2 linked regions of the Homo sapiens genome follow. The protein of the gene in region 1 purifies or fractionates together with the protein of each later gene. This does not show direct contact. Each region holds a gene or a part of one and is shown on either strand. Other genes may lie near its edges.

Region 1 (4,210 bases):
ACAATCTCAGCTTACTGCAACCTCTGCCTCAGGGACTCAAGCAATTCTCCCACCTCAGCCTCCTGAGTAGCTGGGGCGGCAGGCACAAACCACCATGCTGGGCAAATTTTTGTTTTTTTTTTTGGTAGAGACAGGGTTTCACCATGTTGGCCAGGCTGGTCTTGGAACTCCTGACCTCAAATGATCTGCCCACCTTGGACTCCCAAAGTGCTGGGATTACAGGTGGGAGCCACCACACCCAGATTGAATCTAATAATTTTTTAACTGCGATTAGTATGTTGTCTTTTTTCATTTCATTGCTCTGAAAATTCATTTTTATTGATTTTATAAAAGTCTCAGTCCATGAAGGACTAGAAATCTTAAAAACTTGTCCTTAGTGCTTAAAATGGCACTTAAATCTATACTTTCTGACAAGGTCAATAATAATTTACTTCCAATATTACAATGGGTTATTTAATAGCAATGCTGTTCACACCGTTAAAACTAAGGAGTAAGTGATGGACCATTAAGTAGGGGAGGCGGCCCACAGGATCATTTACCAGAGTAGCTCAAGGAAGTAAAGTGTGCAAACATACAAACAGCAACTCCAAAGTTGCACAAGGGGTCTCTCGGTCCCCCCTATGCCTCTAAGAACCAAATTTACCAAAGATCCCAAAGGTGTACTTGAAAGAACTCTACAAAGGCTTGAAGCAACCCACGAAAGCTTGACCCAGAGTCTGGGCCTATCCATCAAATCAGACAAGACTAACAAACAAGAGTAACTTTAAAAAAGAAAAATAAAGCCAGGCACGGTGACTCACACCTGGAATCCCAGCACTTTGGGAGGCCGACATGGGTGGACCACAAGGTCAGACCGACCTGGCCAACAAGGTGAAATGCTGTCTCTACTAAAAATACAAAATAAGCTGGGCGTGGTGGCACACGCCAGTAATCCCAGCTACTCGGGAGGCCAAGGCAGGAGAATCGCTTGAACCCAGGAGGCGGAGGTTTGTGGTGAGCCAACATTGCGCCACTGCACTCCAGCCTGGGCAACAAGAGCGAAACTATGTCTCAAAAAAAAAAAACCAAGAAAAAGAAAAACAAAACCACCTTCTCAACTGTAAAGCGTGCTGGACTTGGGGACTGAGCAAGAGTGACGGAGATACTCCAAGCTGGAAGTACTTCTCCCAGGGCCTTTTTAAAGAGCGAGAAGAGGGAGCAGGTGTTTCTACTCACCAAATCTACGTCTTTCCTCTAAAAACAGAGGATATACTCTTGCTTTTTATTTCCACCCAAATCAAGTGAACAGAGTAACTGATGGTAGCTACTTAAAGAATAGTGAGATGAGGAGGGAGTCTGTGAAACTTAACAAAGATTCAGCATTTGCACTCCTTGGTATTTACCCAATGAGTTGAAAACTTATGTCCACACAAAAACCTTGCCAAAACTTGGAAGCAGGCCGGGCGCAGTGGCTCACGCCTGTAATCCCAGCACTTTGGGAGGCTGAGGTGGGCAGATCACCTGAGGTCAGGAGTTCTAGACTAGCCTGGCCAACATGGTGAAACCCTGTCTCTATTAAAAATACAAAAATTAGCCAGGCGTGGTGGCATATGCCTGTAGCCTCAGCTACTCGGGAGGCTGAGGCAGGAGAATCGCTTGAACCTAGGAGGGGGAGATTGCAGTGAGGCGAGATGGCGCCACTCCACTCCAGCCTGGGTAACAAAGTGAGACTCCATCTCGGGGGGTGGGGGGAGAACTTGGAAGCAACCAAGCTCTCCTTCAGTAGGTGAATGGAGATAAACTGTGGTACATCCAGACAGTGGAATATTAATCAGTGCTAAAAGGAAAGAAGCTATCAAACCATGGAAAGGCATGGAGGAACCCCCAAATGCATACTAATACTAAGTGACAGAAACCCATCAAAAAGGCTACACATACTGTGTGATTCCAACTAGATGACAGTATGGAAAAGCAAAATTATGGAGACAGTAAAAAAATCAGTGGTTTCCACGTGGTGTAGGGAAAGGGAGGCAGGAACAGTGGGGCCGAGAAGATCTGTAGGTCAGTGAACTCTGTAATGCGTGACGTTAGGCGTTTGTCCAAACCCACAGAACGTCCAGTACGAGGCGTGAACCCTCCTGTAACGATGGCCTCCGGGTGACGAAGACGCAGCGATGCAGGTTCGCCGACTGTCACAAATACCCACACCTTACGCAGATGCTCACAGGGGAAACTCTGGGAGGGAAGGGGCCTATGGGACCTCTGCCCTCCGCTCCGTTATCCTGAAAACCTGAGTGCCTCAAAAACTAGTCTGTTAAACATTAAGAACTGAAAAAAAAAAAAAAAAAAAAACCTCTAGCTCAGCTTCCTTACAGGCACCGCTCTGGGCCGCGCGTCGGGTTGTGTAGTGACCACTCGCCCTGGACGGTCAGGGGTCCCTGGAGCCCCGCGAGAGGGCACGGGCTCGCGAGAAGGATCTGGATGGCCCGTGCCCTCGTCGCCAGGCCTCGCCCGGCCGCCCTCCAGCCGCCTCCGCCCCGCCCGCGTCCTACCTTTCGAACGCAGCGGCCGGCCGGGCCGGAGCTTGGGCCAGAGCCGGAGCCTGGGCCGCGGGACCAGCGCCGGGGGCCACGTCCTGGCGCTGCACCTCCTCCCTGGCCGCCCCTGCCGGGAAGGCGGGCGGCGCGCCCAGCAGCTCCACATTGGTCACCGTCTTGCCGATGGTGAACCAGTCGTTGATCTGCTCGATGGTGAGCTTCCGCAGCATCCTCAAGGCCCAGGCGTCGGCATCCCCCAACTGCCGGGTCTCCGCGGCGGGAACAGGCGACGGCGGAAGCGCACCCTGGAAGCCCCGCCCCCGCTCGAGGCCTTCCAATCAGAACGCGCCGCGCGCCCTTGTGGGCGGGCTCCGGCCCGGGCGCGTGCTGCCCGCGCTGCCTGGTCCTCGTGCCGCCGGCCCCGCCCCGCCGCGCTAGGCCTGCCGGGAGCCGCCGCCCCGAGCGAGCCCAGGGTGAGCCTTTCTAGGACCTCAGGGGAAGCTTGAGCGCCGCGGCTGGCCCGGGAGTCTGTTTCACGGGAGTTCCGTGGCAACCCCTGTGTGTACAAGAAAATGCCCTCCGGTCACTCCCTGGCCTCTCTATTTAGAGGCTGCTGCCTCGGAGGTTTGTGCGCTTTGAGCGGACCGGGACCCTACATACGTTTCTTGAGCACCTCAGGGTGAGGAGATGGAAGGCAAACCAGAGAAGGGATTTGCGTTCGTGGGTCAGACGTACCAGGACATCCTTGCACCTAATATGGGGGGAGAGGGGCAAGAAGAAGGTCAGGAAGGTCTCGGAGAAAGTAACGCCAGGCAGACCCCTGCAGGATACGGGGGAATGCGCCAGACGGAGGACCACCCAGGGTTATAGGGGAGGGCAGGCGGCCCTGATGGCTGAGGTGAGGATCTGGGAGAAGTTCTTTGCAGCCGGATCATAACTGAATTCATCTTCCTTCCTAAACCGGTGTCTCAGGCGGCGGTGTCAGACTCACAGCTGGACACAAACAGGTGCGGACAGGAGGTCCAGGCGATCACATGGACCAAAGATACAGGCTGAGGTGGTCCCGGCCGAGCTCTAGAAGAGTGAGGGTGGAGAACAGAGCCCTAGCAAACTCCCCAAAAGAAGGAGCCGCGGGAAGAAATCAACAAAGGATGCACGGGAAGGCAGCCACGTGTGCAAGGGAAGGGAGGGTCAGAAGAGAGACATGGCCACCTGCCTGGGGTGTGTCCCCCTCACTGGCCAGGGCAGGATCTATCTGGCCCATGTGGGCTCTCAGGAAAGAGCCATGTGAACAAATACAGAGACGGTATCGAGAGCATGGCTCTAATCAGCAGTGTAAAGCCCAAGCAGTGGCAAATAAGAGGGCGGTTTGAAAACACTGTAGACAGAAATCAGGCAGGTAGGTTGAGCTATTGGTGTCTCAAAAATTGAACCCATAATCATACTAAGCCAGGAGTTCTGGCTCCAAATCCTGGCATAATGAGCTCTAGACCTCATATTAGGACTCTGCCAAATACGACAGGTTCCCAAAAGTGCCTCAACACACTTTGCCAGGAAGAAATAACTTGCTTTTCTTTTTTCTTTTGAGGCAGGGTCTCACTCCTGTCGCTGAGGCTGGAGTGCCGTGCTGCAATCAGGGCTCACTGCAGCCTCAACTTCGGGGGCTCAGGTGATGCTCCCACCACAACCTCCTG
Region 2 (3,500 bases), on another chromosome or scaffold:
ATCTTGCAGCTGTGGAGGCTTTGAGGTCCCTGGGGTGGCCACCCTGTCAGCCCGTTCCCCTCACCTTGCAGATGCGGGCAATGCGGGACACAATGGTGTTCTCAAAGAACTCAAATTCCTGGCCAGTCTCGCTGAAGAAAAAGTAGATCTTGTCATCATCGCCTTGCAAGCTGCCCAGGCTCTCAGGAATGTAGGCTGAGGCCACAAAAGCTGGGTCTGTAGGGACCAGGTCAGGAGCTCAGAGTCAGCCCAGGAACCCTGGAGACAGGCCAAGCTGGGGGAAAGTGCCCCCTTCTAGGGCTGGGTGAACAGGATCCCTGCCCTCTGGGTGGTGGCAAGAGGACTTCACCTTGCAGCCAGTTGAGGGAGCTCTCGGTCTTGGTGGGGCGAAGGCTTTGGCTCCGCGAGATGGCCGGGTCATTCCCTTGGAAGCTGCTGACTGTTCCAGTGTAGAGCTCGCCATCTGCCAAGAAAACATTCCCATGGGAATGGGCTCCTCAGCACGGCCCCTTCTCCCTGCTCAGGGCCCAGAGTGACCCCAGCACTGCCCGTTTTGCCTGTGGTGGGCAGAGAAGGAAGCTGGAACTTGGAAAAACCAAACCCAAGGCAAGCCCCTGGCCATTCTGTCCCCTTGGAAATAAGCATGGCATGGACTCAGCCTGTCCAAAGCTAGCCCTCTAGCCCTGTGTGCCCCTACATGGAACCTCAATGAAGCCATCCTGCCCTCAACACTCACCAACCACCAGGGCAGTGGACTTGAAATTCGGGTCGAAGGGACAACGGCCCTTGCCATCTTCCAGGAGGACATTCCCCTTCTCGTCCCTTGCCAGGGTGAAGTTCTCCATGTTCTGCAGGAGGGTGGACACATGGGCTCAGGGGCACTCCAGGGAATGAGGAGCAGGCTTGGTGAGAAAGAGAGAGGCGTGCAGGAGAAGGCAACTCTGCAGGCAGGTGAGGTGTGTGGGACAGAAGGGGTCAGGTGTCAGGGACGCCGTCCTCCTCAGCCAGGACACGGTGCCGAAGGGTTTGAACCTGGACAGTCGGCCTCAGGAGAGGCCTCACCCAGACACAGTGCCACACTGCCTCACAGTGACCCGACGCGGGACACATTATCAGACCCACCTGGCGGAGGAGGTGAGGCTTAGAAAATGATGTGAGCCTGGCCGGGCGCGGTGGCTCACACCTGTAATCCCAGCACTCTGGGAGGCCGAGGCGGGTGGATCACGAGGTCAGGAGATCAAGACCATCCTGGCTAACACGGTGAAACCCCCCTCTCTACCGAAAAATAGAAAAAATTAGCCAGGCGTGGTGGCGGGCACCTGTAGTCCCAGCTACTCGGGAGGCTGAGGCAGGAGAATGGCGTGAACCCAGGAGGCAGAGCTTGCAGTGAGCCGAGATCGTGCCACTGCACTCCAGCCTGGGCGACAGAGCGAGACTCCATCTCAAAAAAAAAAAAAAAAAAGAAAAGAAAAAGAAAAAAGAAATAAAATGATGTGAGCCTGGAAGGGGCAGCAATGTGATTCAAACCCAGGTGTGTCTGACCCCAAAGCTGGGCTCCAACCCACAGCATCAAATGCCACCCTCTGCTAGGGGTGTGTGCTGAGGAGGGGGTGTACAAGATAAGACAAGAGAATCAAGCAAAGGAGAGGGAGAGATGCTGGAAGAAGCAGAAGAGGGCAGCAAGGCCTGGGTGGCACAGGATCTTCATGGGTAAGTGACCGCATGTGCCCCCGCCTCCCCGCACAGGGAGACATGGCTGTCAGGGCTGCGCTTTGTGCCAGGGTGTGGGACCTCAGGGCTCTTGGAGGCCAGTGGTACCTAGAAACCTCCCTCTGGGCCCTGCCTTTCCTCAGGGGTCTATGCTACAGAACAGGATCCCTGGGGCAGAAAGAGGGGCAGTTCCCAGGTCAGCCTCAGGGCTGAGGACAGGTCACTCACGATGTAGGTACACATGGGGCTGAAGGCTGCTGTGCCACAGGTGAACAGGTGACTGCCGCTGAGCGGCAGGAGGATCTTGATGTAGTTTTGACAGTCGCGCTGGGGGGAAGGAGCGAGGGGATATCAGTCCCACGCCCAAGCATGCCACCAGGGGGCACCGCCGAGCCCCCCCTTCCACACCCAGGCCCGGCCTCTGCTCCCAGGACTGGGGATGGGGCACTCAAGTCTAGGAACAAAGAACCCACGGGTTTTCTGGGGCACAGTGGAGCGTGCACAGAGTGTGTGTGCTGCAGGGAGCCCAGGGGCTCAGCTAGTTTTGTGACTGGCAAACTTTCCTTCGGCCTAGGGGTGAGGGCACAGAATCCTACCCCTTTGAGTTGTACTATTCCCCAGCAGCATCCTCTTCAGAAGCCACAGGCCCCTCCCAACCAAGCTGGGAGCTGATGAAGCCACAGCCCAGAGCAGGAGGACTGCTCAGCCCTGAACCCTGAACCCCAGATTCATGCATCACCTTCAAATGGGGTATCTAACTGGCACCTGCAACCAAGCTTCTTTCTGGTCCTCCCTAAAACACATGCTTCCCCCCGAGATCTTGCCACTTTCATTAATTCTGTCTTTTCAGTCGCTGAGGCCCCAAACCCAGTCAGCCTTGACTCTTCTTGTCGGTCATACCCCATAATTTCCCACCCAGAAATCCTGGTGGCTCCATCTTCAAAATGCATCCGGAATCTGAGCATTTCTCACTGGTCCGAGCCACCATCATCACTCGCCCCTCACTGCTCTCCCTCCTCCTGTCCTTCCCCATGGAGGCTTCTCTACCACAGTAGCCAGAGTGACCCTCTTAGTACACAGGTGAGACCATGTCACATCTCTGCTCAGCCTTCCCCTGGCCTCCCAAATACCTCCCTCAGAGTGAAATCAAAAGTCCTGCCCCTCCTCCAGATATGCCACTGTCAGCTCCTCACTCTCTCCTGATCTTGGCTCAAATGTCACTTTTTTAATGAAATGTTACCTGACCACCTCATTCCATCCCACGCCCCGCCAATAACATTTGTAAACTGACTACTTTTTCTTTTGAAACACAGTCTCATTCTGTCATCCAGGCTGGAGTGCAGTGGCGAGATCTCGGCTCACTGCAACCTCTGCCTCCCAGGTTCAAGCGATTCTCCTGCTTCAGCCTCCCAGGTAGCTGGGGCTACAGGCGCCTGCCACCATGCCTGGCTAATGTTTTTTGTATTTTTAGTAGAGACGGAGTTTCACTATGTTGGCCTGGCTGGTCTCGAACTCCTGAGACACTCAGGAGACCATGAGGTGGAGACCTTGTGATCCACCTGCCTCAGCCTCCCGAAGTGCTGGGATTACAGGCGTGAGCCACTGTGCCAAGCCTGCTTTTTCACAATTAAATCTCCAGTACCTAAAAGTACATGGACACAGAGTGCATGCTTCATCAATGTTAGCTGAATAACAGAATGGCAGCCAGGACTTGAACCTGTGTCTTGATCCCAAGTCCAGCACTCGTTTGCCCTCACCTTACCCAGCACCTGCTGCACTTAGGAGCAGGA

What was found. Proteins that work in one complex are often made in the same cells at the same time.
Region 2: the proteins of TDRD9 (region 1) and SEMA4B purify together in Homo sapiens (affinity purification with mass spectrometry; one large-scale study listed by BioGRID and IntAct). This does not show direct contact.

What each region holds. Positions count from the first base shown.
Region 1 is NC_000014.9:103,927,046-103,931,255, reverse strand, and holds the start of TDRD9 (ATP-dependent RNA helicase TDRD9), read right to left. Parts: upstream 2,801-4,210; 5' UTR 2,747-2,800; coding exon 2,532-2,746; intron 1-2,531. UniProt on the Homo sapiens protein: ATP-binding RNA helicase required during spermatogenesis. Required to repress transposable elements and prevent their mobilization, which is essential for the germline integrity.
Region 2 is NC_000015.10:90,218,330-90,221,829, reverse strand, and holds part of SEMA4B (semaphorin-4B isoform 1 precursor), read right to left. Parts: intron 2,038-3,500; coding exon 1,939-2,037; intron 849-1,938; coding exon 737-848; intron 464-736; coding exon 350-463; intron 217-349; coding exon 65-216; intron 1-64. UniProt on the Homo sapiens protein: Inhibits axonal extension by providing local signals to specify territories inaccessible for growing axons.